Linked DNA regions of Homo sapiens. The protein of the gene in region 4 interacts with the protein of the main gene of each other region in a pairwise test. Each region holds a gene or a part of one and is shown on either strand. Other genes may lie near its edges. The genes, in order: DTX2, A1CF, DOK4 and DOK3.

The links.
Region 1: the proteins of DOK3 (region 4) and DTX2 interact in binary tests that used the Homo sapiens proteins (3 or more experiments, as listed by UniProt).
Region 2: the proteins of DOK3 (region 4) and A1CF interact in binary tests that used the Homo sapiens proteins (3 or more experiments, as listed by UniProt).
Region 3: the proteins of DOK3 (region 4) and DOK4 interact in binary tests that used the Homo sapiens proteins (3 or more experiments, as listed by UniProt).

The regions. Positions count from the first base shown.
Region 1 is NC_000007.14:76,464,705-76,471,725, forward strand, and holds part of DTX2 (probable E3 ubiquitin-protein ligase DTX2), read left to right. Parts: intron 1-5,315; exon of another isoform or gene 5,316-7,021. UniProt on the Homo sapiens protein: Regulator of Notch signaling, a signaling pathway involved in cell-cell communications that regulates a broad spectrum of cell-fate determinations.
Region 2 is NC_000010.11:50,875,607-50,882,627, forward strand, and holds part of A1CF (APOBEC1 complementation factor), read right to left. Parts: intron 1-7,021. UniProt on the Homo sapiens protein: Essential component of the apolipoprotein B mRNA editing enzyme complex which is responsible for the postranscriptional editing of a CAA codon for Gln to a UAA codon for stop in APOB mRNA.
Region 3 is NC_000016.10:57,476,493-57,483,513, forward strand, and holds part of DOK4 (docking protein 4), read right to left. Parts: intron 3,898-7,021; exon of another isoform or gene 3,803-3,897; intron 3,266-3,802; exon of another isoform or gene 3,197-3,265; 5' UTR 3,016-3,196; coding exon 2,950-3,015; intron 1-2,949. UniProt on the Homo sapiens protein: DOK proteins are enzymatically inert adaptor or scaffolding proteins. They provide a docking platform for the assembly of multimolecular signaling complexes.
Region 4 is NC_000005.10:177,506,811-177,514,689, reverse strand, and holds the start of DOK3 (docking protein 3), read left to right. Parts: upstream 1-4,863; 5' UTR 4,864-4,932; intron 4,933-5,032; 5' UTR 5,033-5,149; coding exon 5,150-5,215; intron 5,216-6,147; coding exon 6,148-6,453; intron 6,454-7,879. Other genes in the region: probable ATP-dependent RNA helicase DDX41, read left to right, coding at 843-1,005, 1,206-1,337, 1,608-1,679, 1,814-1,910, 2,045-2,194, 2,297-2,368, 2,484-2,594, 2,763-2,899. UniProt on the Homo sapiens protein: DOK proteins are enzymatically inert adaptor or scaffolding proteins. They provide a docking platform for the assembly of multimolecular signaling complexes. DOK3 is a negative regulator of JNK signaling in B-cells through interaction with INPP5D/SHIP1.

The DNA.
Region 1 (7,021 bases), on a different chromosome or scaffold from region 4:
GACATTTTAATGGAGCACACTGGAACATGTGGAATGGGTTTAGACTGGATTATTCGCTTTGTGGCGGTCTTCTTACATACATCATGCCAGCTTCTTCGTGGGGAGAGGCAGGTGAGTGGTTTTGCCCTCAGTTGCTTATAGTCTAGTTGAAGAGATAAAGTGAACATAGAGAACTGAAAAGGAACTTGCTAAGAGGGTGTTTTCTTTCATTCTTTTTGTTGTTGTTGTTTTGTTTTGTTTGTTTACTTTTTGAGACAGGGTCTTACTCTGTCACCCAGGCTGGAGAGCGGTGGTGCAATCTCAGCTCACTGCTCAACTTCACCTCCCAGGCTCAAGAGGTTCTTGTGCCTCAGCTTCCCGAGTAGCTGGACTTACAGGTGCACACCATCATGCCTGGCTGATTTAGAGGGTGTTTGCTTTCTGCTGGGCACATCCAGGCATCGTGGGAAGTGCTGTTTAAATTGGGCCATAAAAGGGTGGGTAAGGTGAGGACAGGGGACCAAGTGGGTGGGATTCAGGGTGAAGCAGAGTCATGGGGGTGGGGACAGACACGCTGATGCACATGGGAGTAGTGGATCCTCATTTACACTCTGGAAGGGAATTGTGGAGAGGGAGGTATAGATGAGGGGATGGAAGGGAAGGGCACCGGCAAATATTGTTGATAGCGAGGGAAGGGCGGTATTGTGATCGGCTTTGACTGTCAGCCTAAGGAATTTGAATTTCATTCTAGAGATCCAGGGGAGGTGTGTAAAAGACAAGATCAGAACGTTAGTTCAGGAAGCTTAATCTTTTCTGCCCCCCCATCTGAGATGTACAAGAGGGTTAGAAAGCAGAGTTGGAGAAGCTGTTTGGGAGGGAGCACTTATTTGTTTTTTTGTTTTGTTTTGTTTTTTTGAGATGGAGTCTCGCTCTGTTACCCAGGCTGGAGTGCAGTGGCGCCATCCTGGCTCACTGCAACCTCCACCTCCCGGGTTCAAGTGATTCTCCTGCCTCAGCTTCCCAAGTAGCTAGGACTACAAGCACCTGCCACCATGCCTGGCTAATTTTTGTATTTTTAGTAGAGACGGGGTTTCCCTCTGTTGGCCAGGCTGGTGTCGAACTCCTGACCTCAGGTGATGCACCCACCGAGGCCTCCCAAAGTGCTGGGATTACAGGCGTGAGCCACTGCGCCCGGCAGGGAGGGGGTAAAGTGAGAGGCATAAGGGTCCCGGCCAGGTGTTAGCAGGGGGCTTCAGAGGTGAGGAGAGAGCAGGGCAGGCAGCTGCTAGGCCTGGGGGAGCGGGCTGCGGAGGACTGAGAATCTGAGGTTTTTCTCTTGGCCGCCTGGGGGAAATCCAGGGGGAAAAGGAGAATGAGGAAGGAAGATGCGTTTGGCCTCAGACGTGTTGAAGGTATTAAGAGGCCAACAGGAAATGAGGCCATGGGCTAGAGAGAAGAGCCCTGATTCATTCCCCAAATGCCTCCCGAAATTCTGTGCGCCGAGGCTTGTGTTTGGCACTTGGAGTACAAAGATGAATTCAGCAGTCTCTTTGGTGTTTGCCTTATCAGCTAAGCTGAGAACAAGATTGATTAGTACACACTCCTCAGTGTTCATGCCTGACCTACTTTTCCTTATTTAGTAAGTTATTTTTAATAAATGTAGTAAGCTCTGGCAATCTAGGCACCCAAAACAAAAGCTGGGATCATGAAACAAAAGTATATATCTAATCTTTTTTTTTTAATTTTAAAAAACTTTAAAAAGTTTTCTACTTTATCAGGTCCCCTTAGAACATCTAATCATTTCATTTGAACTTGTTTTCTGTTCTTACCCTGAGGTAATCATTATCTCCTTTCTTTCATTTTTTTCTTAGTTTTATCTTACATGTGTATTTCTTTGTTTCTCTGTCTCTTTTTTTTTTTTCTTTGAGGCAGAGTTTCACTCTTATTGCCTAGGCTGGAGTGCAATGGCACGATCTCGGCTCACTGCAACCTCCACCTCCCGGGTTCAAGCTACTCCCGATTCTCCTGCCTCAGACTCCGGAGTAGCTAGGATTACAGGCATGCGCCACCATGCCCGGCTAATTTTGTATTTTTAGTAGAGACGGAGTTTCTCCATGTTAGTCAGACTGGTCTCAAACTCCTGACCTCAGGTGATCCACCTGCCTCGGCCTCCCAAAGTGCTGGGATTACAGGTGTGAGGCACCGCGCCTGGCCTATTTCTTTCTTTTTTTAGAGACAGTGTCTCACCTTGTAACCCAGGCAGCTGGAGTGCAGTGGCATAATCACGGATCACTGCCGCCCCAAATTCCTGGGTTCAATGGATCCATCCCCTTCAGCCTCCTGAATAGCTGGGACTACAGGCACAGGCTACCATGCTTAGCTAATTTTTAAAGTTTGTGCAGAGGCAGCTTCACTGTGTTGCCCAGGCTGGTCTTGAACTCCTGGGCTCAAGCAATTCACCCGCCTTGGCCTCCCAAAGTGCTGGGATGATAGACATGAGCCACCATGCTCGGCAGTGTTCATCTTTCGTAGCTATTGCTAGACCATTTCCTGAATGTAGTGCTTATACCAGTATCCACTTTACCAGCAGTGTCCTGTGTCTTGCAGCTCCACAGTCTTACCAACATTTGCTGTTGGCCAAGTGAATGGGTAGAAAATGGAATCTTTGGGAACTTGGTTTCTAGGTCCCTGAGCCCTGCTGCTGAATATCTCCTCTTATGTTTATTGGCATATGTGTTTCCTGTGAAATATTCATGTCTTTTGCCAGTTTTTCATTAGGGTTCTTGGTGCTTTATTTTTTGTTGATCTATAGGGCTCTTTATATATTGCTGATTTTAATCCTTCGTGTCTATTGCAAATATCTTCTCCCAGCTTTTAACCTATTATTCCTCTTTCTTTAAGGTGTCTTCTGTTGATCAGCCATTCTTCATTTTAACATAGCGAAATGTATTTTTTCCCTAGTACTCAGTTTTCTGGGTCTGGTTTGAAGTCTTTTCCTGAACATAACCCTTGCCTTTAAGGAGCGTATGCATTCTCCAGTGGAGGAGACAGATAATGGCACTGAGACGTCATGTGGGCATTGATTGTTAGAAGTGGCCACTTCTGCCTGTGGAGCGGGAGCGAACTTAGGAAAGATCTCACAGGGCAGAGTCTTGAGCTAGGAATTAAGAGATGAGTAAGTGGACAAGTGCGATGGGCATTCTCAGTGGGGGACGAAGGGCATGAAACATCCTGACCTGCCCTGGGCACTGCCAGGAGGTCCAGATGGCAGGAGCTGACGGTTTGAGGGGCTCGGGCAGGGCATCCCGAGGACAGCTTTGGGTGATCTGTATGCAAGGGAATATTGAAGCCATGGGAACAGATCCTGAGGATCCGGGGGGAATGGAGAGAGGAGGGGAGGAGGGGAGAGGGAGGCCAGGGCCTGATTCCCGGATGCAGAGAATGTTATCAACGCCCGGTGTGGCTCTGGGGAGCACCTGGGGCTTCCCAGGGGCGGGTGCTGTTGGCATGCTGCCTGCTGTGCTGTTGGATGCTGTATTTCACCCTTAGGTGTTGGGCAAAGGCTGACATGTCTGCAGAGGGCAGGGCGTGTTGTTGGCAAAGCTAGCCAGAGGCAGAGCACTCTCTCACTTTTTGATAGAGACATGAGTTCAGAGAAGTATTGCTCAACTGTAGGAGTGTGAAAGTACAGTAATAGATGTGAGGGAGGCCACAGGGCAGAGGTCTGCAAACGATGGACCCTCAGCCAAATCTGGCCCACTGCCATTTTTTTTTTTTTTTTTTTTTTTTTTTTGAGATGGAGTCTCACTCTGTTGCCAGGCTGGAGTGCAATGGCACGATCTCAGCTCACTGCAGCCTCCGCCTCCCAGGTTCAAGAAATTCTCCTGCCTCAGCCTCCTGAGTAGCTGGGATTACAGGCACCAGCCACCATGCCTGGCTAATTTTTGTATTTTTAGTAGAGACAAGGTTTCACCATGTTGGCCAGGCTGGTCTCGAACTCCTGACCTCAGGTGATCCACCCCCGCTTGGCCTCCCAAAGTGCTGGGATTATAGGCGTGAGCCACCACGCCCAGCATTTTTTTTTTTTTTTTTTTTTTGAGGCAGGGTCTAACTCTGTTGCCCAGGCTGGAGTACAGTGGCACAGTCTCGGCTCACTGCAGCCTCCGCCTCCTGGGTTCAAGTGATTCTCCTGCCCCAGCCTCCCAAGTAGCTGGGACTACAGGTGCACGCCACTACGCCTGGCTCATCTTTGTATTTTTTTGGTAGATACGGGGTTTCACTGTATTGGCCAGGCTGGTCTCAAACTCCTGGCCTCAAATGATCCACCCACCTCAGCCTCCCGAAGTGCTGGGATTACAGGCGTGAGCTACCGCATTCAGCCCCACTGCCTGATTTTGTTCATAAAGTTATATTGGTATGCAACCCCTCCTGTTTACACATTGTTTATGGTTGTTCTTGTGGTCTAGTGGCAGAGTCACTGCAAAGACTTTTTCTGTCCTTTACAGGAAAAGCATGCTGGCCCTAGCCATAGGGAGTCATGGTAGCTGTGGCCACCCAGAGAGGACGTTCCAGCCACCATTGCAGTTTAGCTGGTGTTGCTAGGTAGATCATGGATCTAGGTCCAGCCTGCAAATATTGCCATCTTTCCTGATTTTCAAGGGAAGCTTGAAATCTAGATTTTTTTTTTTTTTTTTTTTACTGTGAATATTCCTTTTTTTTTTTTTTTTGAGACGGATTCTCATTCTGTCGCCCAAGCTGGAGTGCAGTGGCATAATCTTGGCTCACTGCAACCTCCACTTCTTAGGTTCAAGCAATTCTCCTGCCTCAGCCTCCCGAGTAACTGGGACTACAGGCGCTCGCCACCACACTTGGCTAATTTTTTGTATTTTTTAGTAGAGACAGGGTTTCACTGCATTAGCCAGGATGGTCTCGCTCTCCTGACCTCATGATCTGCCTGCCTCGGCCTCCCAAAGTGCTGGGATTACAGGTGTGAGCCACTGAGCCCGGCCAAATATTCCAATTTTTAAACATCAGCTCAGTTTTTAAAAGCCAAACCTTAGTAACCCAAGCAAAACACATCTACAGGCCAGTTTGTCCGTCGTCAGTCTGTCTTGGTGGGAAAGACAGGAACTCTGGAAACAGATTTGGGTTTTCTCAGTCCCTGGATATCCTTGGGCAAGCTGCATGTCTTCTGGTGACTCACTTTTCTCAGTTGTGGTATGGAAATATCCCGCTTCCCCAGTTGTGAGGACCAACGAGAATTACTAGTCAGGTGGAGGGGCTTAGCACGGTGCCTGGTGCCTGGTAAACCTTTACCTGGTAGCCATTGCTGTTATTCATTTATTTATTTATTTTACACAATAATTTACTTATTGAGAGCCTTCTCTCCCCGCCCTTGCAGTCTCTAGGTCACTTTTTCCACTTGTAGATTTTGTGCACAAGCCCCAGAAAGATGGCTGGGGGCAGGGGCTCTGCGTACTATTCGATGAGACCCATAACGTGGCTGTAACTGTCTTTCTCATACTGCAAGAACACGGCTGGCAGATCCAGCTCCTCGTATAGTGCCTTCACCCGGGCCACCTTCTCGGCCTCCTTCTGCCTGTAATTTTCCTTCAGGATCTGGTACTGTTCTGGAGTGGCCTGTAGCAGACACTGAACCACCAGCCAGCTGCATTTGTTGTCCTGGAAGTCATTGCCAACTCTGCCAGTCACACTGGGGTCCCCAGAGAAGTCAAGGTAATCATCCTGAATCTGAAAGAACTCTTGAATCTCCAGCAGGATCTTCTTGGCACTGGTGTGCTCCTTCTTGTCATCCATTCTTGACATGTACATGGCTGCAGCTACAGGAAGGTAGAAGGAGTAGAAAGCTGTCTTGTACTTGACAACAGATTTGTGCCTTTTTTCGGTGCATCTGCGAAGATCCACATTGCCCTGGGGGGTTGTGATGAGGTCGAGGGTCTGCCCAATCTCAGTCTGATAAGAATTCTGCTGGAAGAGCTCCATCAGGTTCAGGTAATAGGGCTGCTCCCGGCAATACAGCTTCAGCAGGCAGTAGATACATGCTTCCAGAAGGATAGCATCATTGATGGCATCCAAACCCATGCCCAGCTTCTGATACCAGGAGATCTGTCCCTGGCAGGTAAGGGATGAATCCATAATGTCATCTGCCACCAGGAAGAAAGCTTGCAGCAGTTGCGCATACCAGCCCACAGTCGGTGCCCACTGGAGACTATCAGCATCCAGTTTCCTCGGCTCCACCAGCTCCCGGAACGCTACTAGCACCATCAAACCTCGGTGATACTTGCCTCCAATGGCATTGTACTCCAGGACCTCCTTGAGCCGGGCAGTAGCATCTCCTGTCTCTGGGTGCCCCATCTCATCCTCAGTCAGCACCCTAACGATCTGGGAGTAGTGCTGAACGAAATCCTGCTTTGCTTGGGCATAAATATCTGATTTCTGGTTTCCATTCGTTCTTTTTTTTTTTTTTTTTTTTTTTGAGACGGAGTCTTGCTCTGTCGCCCAGGCTGGAGTGCAGTGGCGCGATCTTGGCTCACTGCAAACTCCACTTCCTGGGTTCACGCCATTCTCCTGCCTCAGCCTCCCTAGTAGCCGGGACTACAGGCACCCGCCACCGCGCCCGGCTAATTTTTTGTATTTTTAGTAGAGACAGGGTTTCACCATGTTAGCCACGATGGTCTCGATCTCCTGACCTCGTGATCCGCCCGCCTTGGCCTCCCAAAGTGCTGGGATTACAGGTGTGAGCCACCGCGCCCAGCCTGGTTTCCATTCATTCTGAGGGAGGAGCAAAGGGCTGTGTTCCTGGATGCGGGTTCCTGCTTGGCTGTTATTTATTTTTTTTTAAAGAGACAGGGTCTCGCTCTGTTGCCCAGGTTGGAGTGTAGTGGCACGATCATAGCTCACTGCAACTTTGAACCCCTGGGCTCAAAGCAGTCCTTCTGCCTCAGCCAGTCAAAGTGCTGGGATCACAAGGTGTGAGCCACTGCACCAGGCCTGCTATTACTGTTACCATTACACATCCACT
Region 2 (7,021 bases), on a different chromosome or scaffold from region 4:
CACCTCATGAAGCCTGGATCTTAACTTGTTTTCTGCTTTTGGTACATATGTATCCTTACCTGTTGCCCTCTCTACACTCCTAGCTCTATTTCCCACCCCATCTTCCATTACTGGACTTACCCTGAGCTCAGCTAAAGTGTAGAGTGAAAGAAATGTCACTGCTTACTACCCTCTAGGCATGGCATATCTGTTCTGCACACCACTGGAAGATCAATCTCCCTAAAATATTCCTTCTAGTATTCTCCTGCCCCAAATCCTTCACTGGACCCATCACTAACTAGAAAGAAACAGTTCAGCCCCTTAACCTGACATTCAGTGCCTGCCATGACCTGGTCGTAACTTGACTTTCCTGATTTTCTTTCAATACAAGTCTGGAGCTATTCCATGCTCAAGTCCATCAGGTCTCCTAGGCACACCAGTTGCTTTTTATTTTACCTAGGCGCCTTTGTCCTTGTTTCCCATTTCCCACATGCCTAGGATTCCCATTATTCTTTCTATAATTTCCCTGGCTAAGCCAAATTCATGTCTATTCCATCAGATCTTGGGTATATGTGATTGTGTGTATGTATAGATGTATAAGTGAACTAGCACATATGTGCAGACATGAATACGTATATACACACAGGGCCGAATAAATTCTGAGAGGTCAGTGTTTGCAGCACATCACACAAGAAACCTACCCCTTTCCTTTTGTAATTGCTCTGACTTCAATACTGTCTTATAAATTGTCCAGCCTGTGCTCCACTTGGACAAGCTTATCAGAAACTCAGAAACAGGAATACTCATAAGTGCTCTGTCCTTGTCAACACTGAAGATTGAGAGATGAATGATAGGTTTTTAACCCCAAAAAGATCTTGGAAAATTTTAACAGCAGATGCAATGTGAGTGGGCCTCATCCAATCAATTGAAAACCTGAATAAAACATAAAAGCTGAGTAAGAGGGAGCTGGGCCTGCATGACAGAGCAGGGACATTGGCCTTTCCTGATCTTCGGACTTGAAATATTGGCTCTTCTTGCGTCTCTAACCTGATGGCTTCTGGACTGGAACTTACACTATTGCTTTTCTGGGTCTCAAGCCTTTGGACTTGGGCTGGAACTATGCATGGGCTCCCCTGAATCTCCAGCTTGCTTACTGCAAATCTTGGGACTCCTGCTTCTATAATTGCATGAGCCAATCCCATAGAATAAATCTCTTTATTTGTATTTATATGTGTAGACTTACATATTTATATGCATACTTACACAAATTTATATTTGTTTTATGCATTTATAAATGTATTGCCTATATATACATATACTATGTTTTCTTCTAGAGAACACTGAATAATACATACACGTAACTCTGTTTTTGTGCTGTTATTGTTCTAGTACCTGTAAGATCAGACTACTACAGGTGACTGTTGTGCTATCTTTATTCAATTATGATACTCAACTATTCCCAAAATGCCTGACTTCTAGAAGATTCCTGGGGAAGAGAGTTGACAGAATTTAGAAATTATAGAATGACATGGCCTAATGAAAAAAGCAGAATGTCTTTGTATATATGTTTAATTTTTAAGTTGTCTTTTGAATTGGTAAAGTGGTAATCATGGTATACAATGTAGATATTCTTCAGCTTAAAAGCAGTTGATTATTCAATAGTCCTGGTACCAATTATTTGCGTGGTATATTATAGAGACCTGATGAGCTGTGTGTGGTCTATTTCATTCATTCATACTTCTAGTGTTATGTTTCTCCCTCTCTTTTTAACCTTATTGAGACTCTGACCTTCTGAACTTAGTTGCTGCATCTGGTTTCCTCAGACCAATTTGGAGAAATTTAAGTTGAAAACTCAATTTTCACCAAGTCTGCCAATCACTGACTAATGGAGTACATTTGATCTCTGAGTGAAGCTTTAAAAAATCCATCTAAAGCTCTGTGTTACAGTGGCACAGAAGCAATCTGACACTTGTAAGGAAAGATAGCCTTATGTTTCTATTTTAAAAGCCATATTATATTTGTTCTGATTTTATGCTAATTTACATGCATCATCATAAGTGGCTTTGAGTACTGATCTTTTCTTTCATAGTGATGAAAATAATAAAGTCTTAGAGATTTGCATTCTGGTGTGAGGATCTGTATTTCTCTTTTACTTCCTCTGATAATTACCCAGTTTCCTTCAAATCATTCTCTACTAATTTAGAAGACCCTGTCTGTGATAGGGAGTGTCTCTGTCTTAGAAAAAACTGAAAGAGGGCCGGGCGCCGTGGCTCACGCCTGTAATCCCCCCACTTTGGGAGGCTGAGGCAGGAGGATCACGAGGTCAGGAGATCGAGACCATCCTGGCTAACAAGGTGAAACCCTGTCTCTACCAAAAATACAAAAAATTAGCCAGTTGTGGTGGCACATGCTTGTAGTCCCAGCTACTCAGGAGGCTGAGGCAGGAGAATCGCTTGAACCCGGGAAGCGGAGGTTGCAGTGAGCTGAGATCACGCTACTACACTCCAGCCTGGGTGACAGAGTGAGACTCCATCTCAAAAAGAAAAAAAAGAAAAAAAGAGAAAAACTGCCAGAGAATCAGGGAGAGACTGTTTCAAATTTCTACTACAAGCCAGTGATGGGGATAGAATTAATTTCTAAGCCACCTCATTCTACTTTAAAAAGCACTGTACATTTTTACCTCATGGCCTCTTTCTCATCTATTTTCCTCTAGTAAAGCATTTTGTAATCAACACAGAAATATGATGAGAGTTATAGCTAAATGGCTAAAGTTTATGCACACTTGCTTGGTATTATTCTAAGCACTTTACAATTTCTGATCTAATTATTGAAACAACCCTGACTTTACAGAAGAGGAAATAGTCACAGAGTTCAGTAATTTGCCTAGAGTTAAATTGTAGCAAGTGGTAGAGCCAGAATTTGTATCCAAGCATTCCAGATCCAGAGCCTTCTGCTTTAACATATGATTTGTCTCCCACTCTGCTATGCCAACATCACAGGTCAGAGCTTTGGATCATTGGGCTTTAGGAAATCCTTTGCAATTCTGAGTTACTAAATTATTATAGAAAGGATTTGATTTTACGGCTTGTTTTTAAATGTCAGAGAAAACTAAGAGTTTCCAGGCATTATAGGTTTTTCTCTTAAAATATCTTAAGGGTCCATATAATGGCATTTGCTGCATGATGTCAATTCAAGTTAATGCACCTGTTAAATATCTGTGATTTAATGAGAAAACTAGACATGGATGAATTAGTATGTTGCAAGTGTGATACTCAAATGACTTTACTAACAAAATTCTTTAATAAGTTAATTCCTTAAAGATCAGACAAATACCTGCTACTCAAGTCCCTTATATCACCCCCAAGTTACTTGTGACACTTCCTCCCTGGACCATCTGCTCTTGACATCTTCTCTTCCCTATCATCAAAACTTGCTTCCCACAGGGCTTTGCCAGGCTAGTCTGTTAAGCGATTTTAGTCCCTATCACTCACACCCCGCATCCCAACTAATTTGTATTTTAACAAAACTTGTGGGAACAAACTCTTATTCTAAATGAGTAACTCTATTCAGGTTGGTGGAGCTGCTATTTGGGAGCATCTGAGTCTCAATTTAAAGTTCTGAATTAGGTCAGTTTAAATATGGGACTCCCTTAGCAGACACAGACCTAGCAGCCCAATTATTTTTTCCATGGGGAAAAGGGTATGTCCTCCAGGTAGGAGGTGCTATGTCCTCTTCAGACACTAACAGAATTTGAGTGTAATTGCAACCAAGTCATTCATCACAATTACTTTTTATTTTTATCAATGCCTCCATGGTTTATCCTGTCACTATGTTCATGGTGCCTGTATTAGTCTGTTCTCATACTGCTACAAAGAAATACCTGAGACTGGGTAATTTATAAAGAAAGAGGTTTAATTGACTCACAGTTCTGCATGGCTGGGGAGGCCTCAGGAAACTCACAATCATGGTGGAAGGCAAAGGGGAAGCAAGCTTAGGCCTTCTTATGTGACAGCAGGGGAGAGAAGTAGTGTGTACAGAAGGAAAAGTCAAACACTTATAAAACCACCAGGTCTCATGAGAATTCACTCATTATCATGAAAACAGCATGGGGGAAACCACCCCCATAATCCTATCACTTCTCACCAGATTCTTTCCTTCAGGCCTAAGGATTACAATTCAAGATGAGATTTGGGTGGGGACAAAAAGCTAAACCATATCCATGTCTGTGTCTGCATGTATTTCCTCTGTGATGTGGGCCTGTCAGTCTCTCCAAGTCACAAAATGGGTCTCCTTTAACTGAGTCTCTGGCTAGGTCAGTCCATGAGTCTGGGCACAGCAAGGAAGGTGAGACTTGGAGTGAAGGGAGTATTCCTGTTTAACTATAGGGATTCTATTAATTCGTCTCTCAGAATTTTCACAGAGAATCAGGCTGAATTAGAAATGCTTTACAGTGGGAAGTGGTATAATGGAAAAGTATCCACAGAGGGTTCAGGTTCTGCTCTTGGGTTCTCATTCTAACAAAAACCCAAGCTGGGGAACCCAACTTGCTTTTCTCTGTCAAATAAAGGATCTCAAAAGTTTTCTTCAGTTCTAAGCCTTGATGCTTCCCAGTGTTCCATTTGTCCTTTGTTCACAGGGTGGCCTGTGCCAGACTGCCCGGACTCACTCCTGCACCACTTATTAGTGGTGTGACCTGGGGCAAATTTCTCTGTGTCCCTAAGCTGTAGCTGCTTTATTGGAAAAATGGCGTAGCAATAGTACCCATTCCATAGAGTGATGGAGGATTAAATGAGTTAACCTATGTGCCTGGCATGTGGCAGGATGTAAGAGGATGTAAGAGATTTTATTAACATCATTGTTATCATCATCGTAGGGTGCCAATTATAATTAGTTGGTAGTAAGTACATGAATGGCGAGGAACTCTTAGGGATCTTCGGAAAAGAAGGTTAGAAAGAGGATTCCTGAGATGAACATCTATATGTGCCAACACAGTTTTCCCCCCATGGAACCTGATTTTGATTTCTGACTTCCATTTCAAATAATCAGAGGCATTAGAGTTTAATTACATCTAATAATTTAAAGTACATTTTAGTTCATGCTGAAGGCCCCAGATGGAAAGATAAGCACTAAGCAGAATCCCAGTAGAAGAGCTGGATAGAATACTAAAATCAATAGAAATAAAAAATTTCATTTGTGCACAATGTTTTGCCAGTCCCCTGCCAGGCAGGTAGGAGATTTTATAAACCTCTGTTCCTTTATATCTTTCACTGTGTTAGTCACAGCATCTGGACTGAGTTATAATTACATCTTTTTAGGGCTGTTTTCTTCTAGGTCCCATATGGGGGTGGTTCTTCTCTCACCTTCCACATGGACCTTTATGTCCTCTCTTCACTGTTTTCATTTAGACTCTTTTTTTTTTTTTGAGGTGGAGTCTCACTCTGTCGCCTAGGCTGGAGTGCAATGGTGCGATCTCGGCTCACTGCAACCTTCGCCTCCTGGGTTCAAGTGATTTTCCCGCCTCAGCCTCCTGGGTAGCTGGGATTACAGGTACCCACCACCATGCCTGGCTAATTTTTGTATTTTTCTGGAGGTGGGGTTTCGTCATGTTAGCCAGACTGGTCTTGAACTCCTGACCTCAGGTGATCTGCCTGCCTTGGCCTCCCATAGTGTTCGAATTACAGGCGTGAGCCACTGCGCCCGGCCTCATCTAGCCTCTTAACTGATAGGTACATTAGTTAATGTCCAGTGAAGTTGGACATCATTGTGTTACATAAACAGAGTTGGGCTTATAAACGATAGGTGGGAGCATCTTTCAGTTAATCAGATTTGTACAATTGGAATGGTGAATATTGACACAGTTACCTTGAAGAAACTAGGCATACTGAATTGACATCAACTATAAGAAATTTGCCATTAAAAATCTTTATAAGTTCTTGTATATGAAAAGCTTTATAAACTAGAATATCCTATGGAAATAAGATATTGTAGTTAGTTCTACTACTTAAACCTAGTGATTTTTAAATCAATTGGGCATCCTAAAACAATGAATAGTTTTTAATTGCTGGAGGGAGGGAAGGCATCACTACATCACTACTGCAGGTGGGATTTTATAGAATTATAAACCAATCTGCTCACTTAGACATTCTGTCTGCCTAAATTGTCATGTGTTAATTCTCTTTAGTCATATTACATCTGGAGCAGAGCATTGCACTTAACTGTGCAAATCAGAAGGATTTATCTTACATCCTTATTAGTATTTCTCTCTTAATATTACCAGGGACCAATTCCTATTGAATAAACAAACTTGGAAAATGTTCTCCATGTGATTGTTAATACATATATGCATAAAACTCCACATATAAATCTATATAGGATAAAAATCTTAGCTTACATATGTTTAAAAGAAATCAAATTAGAGCTCTCAAGATACCAGCATATCTTATACAGGACGATGATTTTTTACAAAAGGGCATGTTTTAATTTTTGGATTGCATCAATCAAAAATATTCAATACAAAATTTTAGTTTATTAAATTAAAAATTCTAAGTGGTCATTAAAACTGATAACCTAGACCGGGCATGTTGGCTCATGCCTGTAATCCCAGCACTTTGGGAGGCTGAGGCAGGCAGATCATGAGTTCAGGAGTTCGAGACCAGCCTAGCCAACATAATGAAACCCCGTCTCTACTAAAAATACAAAAGTTAGCCTGGCATGGTGGCGTGTGCCTGTAATCCCAGCTACTCGGGAGGCTGAGGCACAAGAATCACTTGAATCCAGGAGGTGGAGGTTGTGATGAGCTGAGATTGCACCACCACTCCAGCCTAGGCAACAGAACGATACTCCATCTCATACAAACAAACCATCATCAACAACAAAAAACTGATAACCTAGTTGGAGTAGATTTGATGAAATGAAATGATGAACTAGCTTTCCTGGTTGAATCAGCAGCAAACATTTGTTAATAACTCTCCAGATTTTACAGGATCAGGCCAAGGAGCAGATGGGATACAGATTTCTAATACAGAATGTCACCGCAAGAGTG
Region 3 (7,021 bases), on a different chromosome or scaffold from region 4:
TCTCCTGGGGATAGGGATTAGACCCTTCCCCCTGCCCACCTGTACATCCCCGTGCCCCTAGTTCTCTGAGTCAGGTGAGGGTCTTTACAAAGGTAACCCCCACTCTTGTCTCCTGGGGCTTTCACTCACCCTCTCTTTTCATTCTCTTACCAACCCTGAAATGTAAGGGGCCCTGCTCCAGCTGGGAACCCAAAGCTGTTTGAGGTAAAGGGGTGGAGCTAGGAATCTGAGGCTCCTCCCACAGCATGGTGCCTTCCCTCCTGGCCCTGGCCACTGCTGATGCCCCTGTACCTTAAACTACCTACATTCTCTGTAGCTTCAGGGACTCCCCCAAGGGGGTGGGGAGCAGAGGGGAGTGACCACTCTAGGATTGAAGGGACAGACTGGCCTATCATTCATGGGTGGTGGAGAGGGAGTTGGCCCCAGCCACCAGCCAGAGCTGCCCTTGCATGACCCCTCCCTCCTGCCTAGACTTTTTTCTGCCCAAAGTCTGTGGCTGGGGTTTACCTACTCCTTCCAGCGGGCATTCCAAAAGCCCGACAGAGCCTGTTCCCCAGGCATCTCTGGTGTTCCTCTTACTGGAAACAGTAGGGAGACTGAGTGGTGGCCGAGAGCACAGCAGAGGAGGCCAGGGGGCCTCTAGGCCCCACCCCTCCTCGGCCCTACTGTGCCATGCGTACACTAGGTCCTTGGCAGGCAGGGTCCCAGGGTGCAGTGGCCCTAGGCAGCCCCCATTTCAAGATACCACTCAGAGCCAGGCCATTTCTGGCTCCTATCTGGGACCCTAGGAGGCATGTCTGCTCCTGCACCCCTGACCCTGGCTTGGCCCCTGTCCTACCCACCTAAACCACAGCAGCCCTCAGCTCTCAGCTGCAGCGCTCCCTTAAGACAGACACTGAATTTTATCCACAGAATCCTCACTCATATCCTGGTAGCCTCATTAACAGCCATGCTAAACAAGTGAATGACCATATGAAGGAACCGTGAATGAATGGATGGATGAATGGATGGATGCTGCCGACCCAGATACACCCTGCCAGGGTGGGCTCCATGCAGCCCGCAGCATCAGGGGCAGAAGGCCTGGGGGCCTGAGCATGCCGGTTGCCTGGTTACAGGATACACATTCACAGCCCCAGGGAGCCACGCGCTCAAGAGCCCTCCTTCCCACTTCGCACAGGGCTTTGATCAGTGCTTCAGAAACACTCTGCCACAGCTCTGCCGCGGGAGAAAGGCCCTGGCAGGTAGGAGAGCCGGCTCCTGATCTCTTTCAGCCCCTCCCCCCTCACCTCTGTGGGCTGAGATGAGAATGGCTGCTGGGGAGGGACCACAGCCTCTCACACCAGGGGAAGTGAGGCTCCTGGCTTCAGAGGGAAGAGAATTCCCTGCATGGATAGGGCCTGGCTATGCCCCACCTCCCCATCCAGGCTGTGCCCACCTGTCAGCCACTCAGTCTCCCTCTGGAACAGGTTTGATACTGAGCCCAAGTGGCTGCCCTTGTGGCTGGTGCCTTCCTGGCACACTCTGCCCTGGGCAAGGCCTCAGCCCAGCTGGCCCCTGGGGACCTGCTAAGTCTGGGGCCATAGGAATGAGAAGTGATGTTAGAAGCGAAGCCTCTGCTTCCTTGGCCTCCCTACCTCAGCCTCAGCTTCTCTCTTTGTTCTGTGCTCCAAGTCAGTGGGCTGATCCCCCTTTCAGAGGAAGAGCAAAGTAGCCGATGGCTGCCAGGGCCCAGTCTCAACTAGGTTGAGCCCCAGGGCAGGGAGGCACAGGAGGGGAAGTGGGGCCAGAACCACCTTCTCCAAGACCAGCCCTGCTCTGTCTGGTACCCAGGTAGGGAAGCTGGGTGGCAGATCCCTCTCCCACTCCGCATGCCCCCCAACCCCACTCAGGCTGAGCCAGGGATCCTTGAGCAGCCTGAGCCGACCCGCCCCCTTCAAGGCAATGGGAGAGAGAAGGGAGAAGGGGACAGGAGTCCTGGGTCAAACACAAGACTTGGGTGACCTCAGTCACCAGGGCTGTCCTTCCTACAGGGGAAGGGGCAACTGCCAGACCTGTCTTTGGCAGGGGGGCCTGGCAGAGGAATAGAGGCAGCTCTCAGACAGCCTCGCCGAGATCATGAAGTTGATCCCCTCTGCTCCTGTCTTCTAGGGGGTCTTCACCAGTTGGGGGTCTACAGAGGGTAGGACAGGATGCATGCCCAGTAAGACCTCTTCTCTGTAGCCCCTCCAAGCCCCCAGTTCAGGGCCAAGCACCAAGCAAGCACAGAGTCACCCACCAACAACTTGGAGGGAAGCAGCCTGTCCCAGAGCACTGGACCATTCTGCCCAAAGTTCTCATTTGGAAACCACATAAATATCAGCTTCAGTGCCTCACACCACCCCGTCTCGCCCAGCCAACCACTCCCCTTTTCAAACACTTCTTTAACATTAAACTCGACAACCAAAAATTTACTAAATATCTGCACACGGAAAGCAGTCAGAAGCAAGGGGAGAGGATGACCTAAAAGAAAAGAGGCCAGGAGAGGTGAGGGGAGGCCGGGGGTGGGGGGCAAACGGAAGGGAGAGGAGGCCAGGGGAAGTGAGACGCTGCTTCTCAGCTCAGACACAGCCCGGCCTTGCCAGCCGCCCCTGCTGCTGCTGTGGTGACAACTTCAACAATAGCAGGGGAGCCGCCTGCCCATCGGTGGCCACCATTGCTGCCACTACCACCACCACTGGCCCAGCTGTTGGGATGCCAGCCAGCCCTCTGGGGCGGGGGCTGCAGCAGGCAGAACCCAGCCCAGGCACATGCCAGGCAGCACGCTGGCGAGGAGCCCCGAGACCACAGATGCACGATGCCCGGCAGCCGGAGGGCAGCCGCGTGCCCCACGCGCCATGCCTCCAAGCCTGGGACCGAGTCCTCGGGCCCCCATCCCTTGGCAGGGCCCCTCCGCAGCTCAGGGTCACTCACCCCGAGCTTCCTGCTCTTCATCTTCACGTAGCCTTGCTTGACGATGTCACTGAAATTGGTCGCCATGGTTTTCCCACCTTTTAGGGGCGCGGGGCCTGGCAGAGGCGAGGGGAAGGATGCCCAGGTGCCTGGGTCTCCGGCTCCTCCAATCACCTGTTCCAGACACTCTGTCGGGGCTGCCGCGAGGGGCTGCTCCTCACCTCACCCGCCTCAGCATTGTTCTAGCAGCTCCTTCGCCCCGCGCCTGCTGGAAATAAAAATGACAGGGAGATTAGAGACAGTGACATCTTTCTCTTCCTCTCGCTGTCTCGCTCTCTTTTTTCCTTCCTCTTCCCACACTCCTCCTCTCTCCCTCTTCCCTCCCTCCTTCCTCCCGCCCTTCTTCCTTCCCTTCCCTCCCCACCCCAGGACGACAGAACCATTCAGGAAAACCGAGGTGGAGGCGGCAGTGAGGAAAATGGTCCAGCCCAGTCCCCTCCCTCACGGCTGGGGCTGGCAGTTAACCCCTTCCTGGGAGGACTGGCTCTGGCTCCTACTGTGGAGGTGGGGACCCAGGAAGGGAAGTGGCAGGGAGCTGCTGTCCCTCAGCACTTTGGGATCGTGGCCCCATCAACTGTGATAACTCTGGTGCAAATTTAGGTCAACTTGCCAAGAGCAAAAGCCCCTTCCTGGGTACAAGAGCTCCCAGGGGTAGCAGGGAAGCGCTTCCCAGAGATGGAGGAGGAGGGTCGCAGGAGATGACCCCTGCGTGTCTGAGTGAACCCCATGCTCTGCAATGTTAAAGACAATTTGCCTGGTCAGCTCAGCAGCCCCCACAAACCCCTCTACCCTCCTGCCCCACCCGGTCCTCTACCTGTTTCTCTCCAGCCCCAGGCTAAGAATCACTACCTCGAGCTCACGCAGGGCCTGTTCCCAGGCCCTGCAACTCTTCCGCACGCAGCTCTGGGTGCTGCTTCCTGGGTGGGAGGGCAGAGTCCAGTGGGGCGGGCCTCCAGATAAGCCTGAGGAATGTGCTGGGCCGGCTGGAGGTAGCCACTGTGGGAGCAGACGCCTTGCCCTGGCCCTGGGGTTGGGAACGCTGGCCAGTCCGTGAGGGTGGGGCCCGGGCCCCAACAGGCCACTGGGTCTGGCCAAGCCAAGCAGGCCCTCCATGTCCTGAGCATGGGCAGGAGTTAATTATAGGAGTACCAGTCAGGGCCCTGGGGCAACAAGACATGCAGGAGACAATGTGGGATACCAAGGGGAGGTAGATATGGAGCAGGAAGTGGGAGTACCAGCAGAGCCACCCCAAATCAGGCAGATCTACAGACAACAAAGACTCAGACTCAGGGGGAGGCTCAGTGTTGACCCAGTCTAACCCCTTCATTTTATAGATGGAGAAAGAAAAGTTGCCCAGAGAGGGTAAGCTACATGACTAAGGTCACACAGCAGGCCTGGGGCAGAGCCAGGGATGAAGGAGAAGGTCCAGGGTGGTGATGGAGACCAGTCTGTGGGGGGAACATCCTGCTGCCGTCTCTGGCTGCCTGCCACCACCTAAGCCTTCCCTGCCATCCATCCTCGGGGGCAGGGTTATGCCAGCAATGTGGCCCCTGTGTCTTCAGGATCAGCGGGTGGGAACGGAGCAGCATTTCTGGGGTCAGCTGGGTATCTGTGCTGCCAGAACGGGGCCCTGGGACAGGCATGCTGCTGGTTGTGCCAGCAGCTTGGCATTAATTAATGTCCTGGAGGCCTGTCTGTTGAGTGCCTAACAAGGAACAGATGGGACTACCCCAGTGGGCACACGCACAGATGGGACTACCCCAGTGGGCACACGCAAACAAGGGAGGGGCAGAGACGGTAATGCGCCCCTATCCCACTTGCACCCTGATAGCCCCTCAATTCCACTCCTGCCCATTCACTGCCTCTATCCCAGCTCCCTGGGGTCCAAGAACCTCCCACAGTTAGGCAGTCTACATTCCTCCTATAAGGTCTGGTCTGGGGTCCCCTCACTGGCAACTGATCCCCAACAGCTCTGCTACACCTGGGCTCTGGCAGCCAGAGATGGGTCAATTTTCTCAGCTCTGTCTTCACCGCCTGCCTCTGGGGCTGCCTTCTCCTCAGAGCAAGGACCAGCTCAGGAGTTCCTCTCCAAGATGATTAGCAGGCTGACCACTGGCTGTGGGTCTACAGTGTGGAAGCCCCCAGTCAGAACACGCCTACAGGAAGCCACTGGACCCCCAGGTTCATCCAACATAGCTCAGACATAGCACAGCCCGGAGTGTGAATCCAGCTGGCTGTGTGGTCCTGGGCAAGCCGCTTAAGACCCTGTGCCTTAATTTCCCCATTGGAAAAAAATGAGAATAAATCTACCTACTTTAAATGAGGAAATGAATTCATGAGGCACCTGCTTGCCCACTTGGGACACAGAGCTTCTACCCTTTTTCTTTTTCTTTTTCTTTTTTGAGACGGAGTCTCCCTCTGTCGCCCAGGCTGGAGTGCAGCGGCGCGATCTCGGCTCACTGCAACCTCTGCCTCCTGGGTTCACGCCATTCTCCTGCCTCGGCTTCCCGAGTAGCTGGAACTACAGGCTCCCACCACCATGCTCGGCTAATTTTCGGTATTTTTAGTAGAGACGGGGTTTCACCGTGTTAGCCAGGATGGTCTCGATCTCCTGACCTCATGATCCGCCCGCCTCGGCCTCCCAAAGTGCTGGGATTACAGGCGTGAGCCACTGCGCCCGGCCTTCTTTTTCTTCTTTTGAGACAGTGTCCTGCTCTGTCACCCAGGCTGGAGTGCAGGGGTGCCATCACGGCTTACGGCAGCCTCAACCACCCAGGCTCAAGTGATCCACCCACCTCAGCCTCCTGAATAGCTGGGACCGCAGGTACATACCACCATGCCCAGCTAATTTTTAAAAACTTGTTTGTAGAGATGGGGCTTTTGTTTTTTTTTTTTTTTTTTTTTGAGACGGAGTCTCACTCTATTGCCCAGGCTGGAGTGCAGTGGCCCAATCTCGGCTCATTGCAAGCTCCGCCTCCCGGGTTCACGCCATTCTCCTTCCTCAGCCTCCCGAGTAGCTGGGACTACAGGAGCCCACCACCATACCCGGCTAATTGTTTCATATTTTTAGTAAAGACGGGGTTTCACCGTGTTAGCCAGGATGGTCTCGATCTCCTGACCTTGTGATCCACCCGCCTCGGCCTTCCAACGTTCTGGGATTACAGGCGTGAGCCACTGCGCCCGGCCCCTAGAGATGGGTTTTCACCATGTTGCCCAGGCTGGTCTTGAACTCCTGGGGTCAAGTGATCCACAAGGCTCGGCCTCCCTGAGTGCTGAGATTACAGGTGTGAGCAACTGCGCCTGGCCAGAGCTTCTGCCTTGAAAACTCCAAGGGCTGTGTGTATGTATATATATATAGTTTTCTTCAAGAGTTGCTGCCCAGACAGGGCGGTGAAACCACCAGAAGCCAGCCTGCTCCTTCCCAGTGTTGCCCCACCAGGGACTGTGGCCCCAAGCTCGCAGGAGTGCTCCTGCTGCGTCTGTCCATAGGCCCCACCCCGTCCCATACCCCAGGTCCCCAGCGGGAAGAGTGACCTTCACGGGGAAGGCTGGGTGCCAAAGTCCTGCCAGCTCACTCCGGCCCTGAGTCACAGGGACCCCTGGCCACACTTAGTCCCTAATGATGTTTGCAAGAGCAAGACCTAACCTAGGACCCAAAATGGTGGGCAAAGAGGGGTTCGGAAGGGGAGGGAAAGGTCAGGGCCAATAGGTGGACCCACAAATTTGACAGGCAGTGGGGTCAAGTGGTGAGGGGGGGGCCCAGAACCAACCCACCATCCTCCAGAAGGAATGCACTGTGTTAAGCAAGCGAGGCGGCCCCCAAGCTGAGCCTGTGAAGGCCCAATAGGACAGCAAGAAGTGGAGAGCAGACCAGGCACAGTGGCTCACACCTGTAATCCCAACACTTTGGGAGGCCAAAGTGGGAGGATCACTTGGGGCCAGGAGTTCAAGACCAGATCCGGCAACATAGAGAGACCCCGTCTCTACAAAAAATGAAAAAATAAGCTGGGCATGTGGCACGTGCCTGTAGTCA
Region 4 (7,879 bases):
CGCTCCCTGCCCCCCACCTCTGCCACCTGCGAGTCTGTGGAAAAGCTAAAGGACCCTTTACCTTAGCCACTCCACAGATCTTCACAGAGGGCTGCTGTGAGTGCGACCCTCAAGGAGCTCCCAGTCTAATGGGGAGGTTAGTTGGGGGAGGACAGAGGGATGTGGCCAGGTACTGTGGGAGCACGGCAGATGGAATGGCCCACCTTGCTGGGGACATCTGGGAGGTGGGAGCTCAGAGAAGGCTTTTCCGGGAAGGTGACATTTGAATTGGGAAGAGGGGCAGTCCAGGCTGAAAGCACAGAGGCGGACGGCCCAGGAAGGTCAGGGTCATTCAGTGGTCAGTCAAGGAGGTTGAGGCACTGGGGTAGGGCTGGATCCCAGCGGCACCTGTGTCCTTTCAGTGCTGTGCAGTCCTCTGCAGACCACCAGAGGCCCTGGACCAGGCCCTCTGTTCACAGATGGGCCAGACCCCATCCCGGAGGCCTTCCTCCACGGACTTCTGAGTATTAGGGAGATGGTGAGCACAGAAAAGGTGAAGCCAGTGGGCCAGGAAAGCGAGCCCAGAGTAAAGCCTCTGGAGCTTGATGACAGCGCTTCTGGGTGAGAGGCTGACCCAGGAGAAGGGGGAAGGCGCGCCAGGCCGAGCGGTGGTGAAGATGGCTGCAGTGCCTTGGGAAAGAGCTGTGTGCTATACATAGGGCAGGTGGTGGGAATGATGAGAAGGGGACAGACAAAGAAATAGGAAGGAGGACAGAGAGCAGAGCAGATGCAGGGTGCCTGCTTGCCTCTAGATAGGTGATAGGCCAGTGGCCCCAACCTCAGGGTCTCTCCTTGGTCCCCAGCGGTGTACACATGATGGTGGCCACCCCGGGGCGCCTCATGGATTTGCTGCAGAAGAAGATGGTCAGCCTAGACATCTGTCGCTACCTGGCCCTGGACGAGGCTGACCGCATGATCGACATGGGCTTCGAGGGTGACATCCGTACCATCTTCTCCTACTTCAAGGTGCCGCCCCCGCCCGGCCAGGGCACCCTGCACCGCCCCCCACTGCACGCCACATCAGACTGCAGGGACCCCATGCCCCTGGCCACCCCAACCCACTGCTCATACTTTGTGGGCTGTGTCTCAGTTGCTCAGCTTCCCCAGACCCCATGCCCCTCAGCCCAGCCCTGTGTGCCCTTGGTCGCAGCCCCCCTCTTCCTCAGGGCCAGCGACAGACCCTGCTCTTCAGTGCCACCATGCCGAAGAAGATTCAGAACTTTGCTAAGAGTGCCCTTGTAAAGCCTGTGACCATCAATGTGGGGCGCGCTGGGGCTGCCAGCCTGGATGTCATCCAGGTGGGCAGGTGCTCCTGATGGGCGGTCTCTCACCTGTGGGGGCTGGATCTGACAAGTCTCCCTGAAGCTGATTGGAGCCGGGGGTCCACCTTGTGGGAACCGGGGGTTTCATTCAAAGCCCCTGACGCTTAACCAGGGCCATTTTTAGGGCACCAGCCCTTGGCGGCCAGAGGCTTCTGGTCACCTCCTGGTCCAGATGACGGGCCATGGCAGGGCTGTGGCGGGTAAGCCTAATCTCAAGATCACCTGACCTGATCTTTGTGGTGGCAGGAGGTAGAATATGTGAAGGAGGAGGCCAAGATGGTGTACCTGCTCGAGTGCCTGCAGAAGACACCCCCGCCTGTGAGTGCAGCCAGGCCAGGCCGGGGCCAGAGTCCCCAGGACCAGGGAGGGCTTTGGAGGGGACAGAGTGCCAGGGGAGGTGCGGTGGGTGCCCAGGCAGTTAGCCCCTGACTGGAGTTGGTCTTTCCGGACAGGTACTCATCTTTGCAGAGAAGAAGGCAGACGTGGACGCCATCCACGAGTACCTGCTGCTCAAGGGGGTTGAGGCCGTAGCCATCCATGGGGGCAAAGGTCAGGGTGGTGCAAGCACTGGCTTGGACCCTGCTGCAGTAGCAGTGCTTTACCTAATGCCTTCCCCTGCCTGGTTGGCCTGCCACTCCCCTGTCCCATGGTGGCTCTGACAGTGTCTGCCTGACCCTCCCCAGACCAGGAGGAACGGACTAAGGCCATCGAGGCATTCCGGGAGGGCAAGAAGGATGTCCTAGTAGCCACAGACGTTGCCTCCAAGGGCCTGGACTTCCCTGCCATCCAGCACGTCATCAATTATGACATGCCAGAGGAGATTGAGAACTATGGTAAGAGCCTGGGGCCCAAGGGCATGGGTTAGGCCGGAAAAGGGCCAAGCCAGGCCCCTAGTGTCCAGCGATGGGCCAGAGACTCTGTCCTTCTCTCTGCAGTACACCGGATTGGCCGCACCGGGCGCTCGGGAAACACAGGCATCGCCACTACCTTCATCAACAAAGCGTGTGGTGAGTCTGTTACCAGCGCCACCTTAGCTGTTCCCTGGGTCCCCTGCCTGTGGCCACCCAGGTTCTGGCCACAGAGCCCAGGATGGGCCCTGATGCTTCCCCACTCCTCCCCCAGATGAGTCAGTGCTGATGGACCTCAAAGCGCTGCTGCTAGAAGCCAAGCAGAAGGTGCCGCCCGTGCTGCAGGTGCTGCATTGCGGGGATGAGTCCATGCTGGACATTGGAGGTGACTGCAGAGCGGGATCCCCGAGTCCCCAGCCGGCAGGTGGCAAGGAGGGGTGCTGGAAGTCAGAAACGTGAAACCGGTGGACCGAGGGTGCCTAACGGGGGGCCCGAAGTCCAGGGCATGGATCCTGGTCCTTGACTTGGCTGACCCCTGTCCCCATTCCCCCAGGAGAGCGCGGCTGTGCCTTCTGCGGGGGCCTGGGTCATCGGATCACTGACTGCCCCAAACTCGAGGCTATGCAGACCAAGCAGGTCAGCAACATCGGTCGCAAGGACTACCTGGCCCACAGCTCCATGGACTTCTGAGCCGACAGTCTTCCCTTCTCTCCAAGAGGCCTCAGTCCCCAAGACTGCCACCAGTCTACACATACAGCAGCCCCCTGGACAGAATCAGCATTTCAGCTCAGCTGGCCTGGGATGGGCCAGGCTGGTCCTGGCTGCCTGTTCCCTGTGCTCTTCAGAATTACTGTTTTTGTTTCCTTTTACCCCAGCTGCCATTAAAGCCCAAACCTCTAGCCCAGCCCTGGCCCTGCCTCTGTGTTTCACCTCATCCGCCCCCTGGTTCCTGGACAGACGTCACCTCTGACCTCTGGAGCCCCTCTGAGGCAAGGCCCCAGCATCTCCCACTAGCACTGCCAACACCTGGCCTGCTGGTACTTGGCTGTGGAAGGAGCCACCGAGCTGGTGCCCGCCTCTGGGGACTCTGGGTCTCTCCACTGGGTTGTCTGAATTTATGACTCAAGGAGGGACCACATTGGCGGGCCAAGGAGAAGTGCTTGGATTCTCTGGTCTCCCTGGCCAGCTGTCATAGCTCTCAGGCCCACTCTTCCTGTCAGGGCTGTGATGTTTCAGGGACTTCTCCTGAAGCCCCTTGGGAGGCTGCTTCTTGCCTCAGGACCCCCACCCACTGCCTGCCTGTGCCAGCCACCTGGAGGGAGCCCTCCATTCCGTTGACTGAGGAGGCAGCAGATGTCATAGAACTGCCATTTAGGCCACAAGCTCTCCCTAAGCCTGCTCTGTGCCCAGCTCTGCTGAGCTGTGAGGACCTAGATGGGCCAGGGAGATGGCTGCCTGGGAAGCCGTCAGGCGAGGGGAGAGAAAGACGCACACGCAGAAACGTGGACGGCAGTCACAAGACCGCTAGCAGATGAGGCAGGATCTCAGCATCTGGTGAGAGGTAGGCAGGGACGGCACAGGCGGCCACACTTCCTCTGAGCCAGGCACTTTGCATGTATGGCCACATGCTCATTCCAGTGAGACAGCGGTTGCTCAAGCCATATTTGTCACTTGATATGTGGCATTGGGCAAGTTACTTAATTTTTCTGAGCACCGATTTCCTCACTGTTGAAATGGCGATGAGAACGCAAAGGATGTGGCGTCTGAGGTGGACGGAGCTTAGGGCTGCTTGGGCCACAGTGGGCACAGAGCTGGGTGCCAGGAGGCCTTCAGGACATATTTCCTGGCCAAGTGCATTCCCAAATGGCATTCCTTATCCTCTTCCATGTTCTCTCCCAGAGGTGGTGCTGAATGACCTGAGGCTGTTCCAGAATAAAGGTATACACACAGCCCCGCTATTGGCATCTTGCTAGGCAAGCCAACAAAAGGCGCCCCCAGCAGGAAGCAAAGCTTTAAATGAACATGTGACCTCTCCGGGGCCCCCTGGGACCTGCCACCCACACTCACGTGGTTGGGGCCATTCAGGGCTGTGGGTCCCATGTGGACTGGATGCCCAGCGTGAGTGTATACCGTGAGGGCCTTTGAGCTCTCGGACAGCGTGGAGTGGTCAAGGGAGGCCTCCAGGAGGAAGAGGTGGCCAACCGCCCCAGGCAGCACAGTGGTGAGGGGGCCCTGGAGGGGCTGGCCTGGGGGAGATGCAGGCCAGAACACACAGGTCCCTGAGTGTTGGGCTGAGGAGCCTGGGCTGCACCCCAGGAAGGGGAGAGACAGGTTGGTCTTGGGTTGTGGAGAGTGCTGCATGGAGGCCCAGTGGGGCAGTGGCCCCTGGGGGGATGCCAAAGGCTGGTGATGTTCAGTGGCTCGTGAGGTGGAGAGGAGCAGGTGAACACGAGAGAGATTTCAGGGAGAAAGAAAAGCAGCAAGATGGGGTGAGGCGCTCAAACCAGGACGCCGAGTGGGAAAGCCAGGAGTTGGCTAGAGAAGGGTCCTGGGTGGAGGCAGGGCCAGGGAGTGTCAGGCCCAGGGTGCGCAGCTGCCCGGGGCGGGACGGGGGAGGGGCGGGAACTCATGACTCGGGGAGCCAGACTGCGATCAGACGCGCGTGCCCAGCTGAACCAGGTGCGTGAGAAGGCTGCCTTCAGGTGGCCGGGGGCTCCCTCCAGGTAGGTGTGGGCACCTTGGGCAGCCAGAACCCCAGGGAGGAAATACATGCTGCCCCCAGCCCCTGAGCTGAAGACAGGCTCCCCTCCCCCCGGCCTGCAGCTGTCTCTAGACGGAGGGACGGGAAGTGGCCAGAAGGGGAAGTGTGAGGAGTTCCCGTCCAGCCTGTCATCAGTCTCCCCAGGTCTTGAAGCGGCGGCCCTGCTCCTGGCCGTGACCATGGACCCTCTGGAGACCCCTATCAAGGATGGCATCCTCTACCAGCAGCATGTCAAGTTTGGCAAGGTGGGGACCCCTGGCTGCCAGGCAGCTGCCAAGGACCAACAGTGGGTGGAGAATGCAGCCTCTGCCCCTGCCTCGGACAGCCCAGGCAGACCTGGGAGACTTGGGAAGGGAGTCAGGGTGGAGGATCCCACCCAGGTATGGGGAGTGGAATGGAGTGCGGGTGTCAGCCTGAGACGGCAGGGGCTGAGCAGGCTCTGCCAGACCCTGCCTCCGGGAGAGATGGGAAATACAGGAGTGGGAGAGGGTCGAAGGCTCAAACCTCCCAGCAGGGAAGAGCTTCACAGCCTCTGACCCATGAAATAGTGCCACCGAGGGCCCTAAATAGGGTGAGGGGCTGAGCTGGAGGAGGCCTCAAGGGTGGAGCCCCTCCCTGCAGCGGCACTGTCCTGGGAGCAAGGAGGCAGGGGGTCACCTCTCCTCGGCAGCAGCCCCACACCCCCGCAGCTCAGCTGCAGCTGCTGCCCAGGCAGATAAACCGTCAGTTTCCTTTGCTCGAAGCTATTTGCATGTTTCCTTCCTTAACAGCTTGAGGCAGAGGCCTCCCTCCCACCCCAGCTCTTGGCCTGTGGCCCAAGTGCCCCTTTTTGGGGGTGAGAGGGAACCAATATAATGGCAGTGTCTGGTGGTCTGCCCGGCCACTGGATGCTTTACAAACATGACCCAGTAGCAGTCCCAGCTCGAGTTCTCATGGCCTTTTGAGAGACGACATTGATGCTTGTGGAGGTCACAGTTAGGAAAGAGCGGGCTGGGATTTGAACCCAGGGCTGACCAATCCCAAGCATAGCCAAGGCCTCCTTACCTGGCTCCCTGAGAAACTGGGGAGCAGAGGCCCGCTCCTGGCTGGGAGCGTTTGCCGAGCAGCTTGTGCTGAGCCAAGTGGCACGGACAATCTGCCACCCAAGGGTCTTCACCCTCCCGCTCCCCTCCCGCAGAAGTGCTGGCGGAAGGTGTGGGCTCTGCTGTATGCAGGAGGCCCATCAGGCGTGGCACGGCTGGAGAGCTGGGAGGTCCGGGATGGTGGCCTGGGAGCAGCGGGTGACAGGTCGGCAGGGCCTGGCCGGCGAGGGGAGCGACGGGTCATCCGCCTGGCTGACTGTGTGTCCGTGCTGCCGGCTGACGGCGAGAGCTGCCCCCGGGACACCGGTGCCTTCCTGCTCACCACCACCGAGCGAAGCCATCTACTGGCTGCTCAGCACCGCCAGGCCTGGATGGGCCCCATCTGCCAGCTGGCCTTCCCGGTGAGTGCGGCGAGCAGGGGGGCGATTGGGCTGGGGCACCTGCCCCCGACTTGTCCACCTCCACGCTCACATCCCATCACCCAGCAAGCTCCACCGAGCACCTACAAGCCTGGGAAAAGTAAATCTATAATGACTCTCAGAGGGCCGTGCGTGCCATGGAGAAAATGGACCGCCAGGGGAGCAGGAGGAAGTGAGGGAGCGACGGGCAGGGTGGCCAGGGAAGGCCTCTCAGAGGAGGGCCCTGAATGACAGGAACCCACTGGGCAAAGGTCTGAGGACAGGGGCAGCCTGGGGAGTTGTGAACAGAGGGAGTCCCGTGGGCAGAGGCCCCGAGGCCGGACAGTGTGGGGTGTTTAAGGGCAGAAAGAAGGCGACGTGGCTGGAAGGAAAGGAGTGCAGGAGGAAGCCAACTCACAGAGCTTAGGAGAGCGGCTGAAATGCCCTAGGCCATGTGTGTGGTTTTGTTCTGAGTGAGAGGCGAAGGCTTTGGAGGGTTTAAGCCGGACATGTTTGTAAAGCCCCAAAAGGTCTGTGATGGGTCAAAAGGAAGTGAGCCTGGGGGTTCTTCAAAGAGGTAAACAGAGTTACCATGTGGCCCACAGGTCCACTCCTAGGTGTGTGCCCAAGAGAACTTGAACAGGTGTTCAAACAAAACATGTACATGTGAGGCAGGAGGATCGCATGAGCCCCAGAGGTCGAGGCTGCAGTGAGCTGTAATCGTGCCACTTCACTCCAGCCCGGGAGACAGAGCAAGACCCTATCTTAAAAAAAAACCCACATGGACATGAACGTCCATAGCAGCACTACTCACAGCCACCAGAAGGTGGAAACAGCCTACATGGCCATCAGCTGACAAATGGATAAGCAAAACGTGGTCCGTCCGCAAGATGGAATACTACTCAGCCATAAAAACAAACAAACGCCTGGCACAGTAGCTCTTGCCTGTAATCTTAGCACTTTGGGAGGCTGAGGTAGGAGGATTGCTTGAGCCTAGGAATTCAAGATCAGCCTGGGCAACATAGTGAGACCCTGTCTCAAAAAAAAAAAAGAAAAGAAGAAAGAAAGAAATGTACAGACAAGGTAACTCCATTGGGATAGAAATCAGATGAGTGTTGGCAGGAGCTGGAGGAAGGGAGAAGTGGGGAGTGGCTGCTCATGGGTACAGGGCTTCCATGTGGGATGATGGAAAAGTTCTGGAACTAGACAGTGGCAACAGTGCACAGCCTTGTGAGTATACTAAAAAGCACTGGTGGCCGGGTGCGGTGGCTCAGGCCTATAATCCCAGCACTTTGGGAGGCCGAGGCGGGCGGATCACCTGAGGTCAGAAGTTCGAGACCAGCCTCAACATGGAGAAACCCCGTCTCTACTAAAAATACAGAAGTAGCTGGGCATGGTGGTGCATGCCTGTAATGCCAGCTACTCGGGA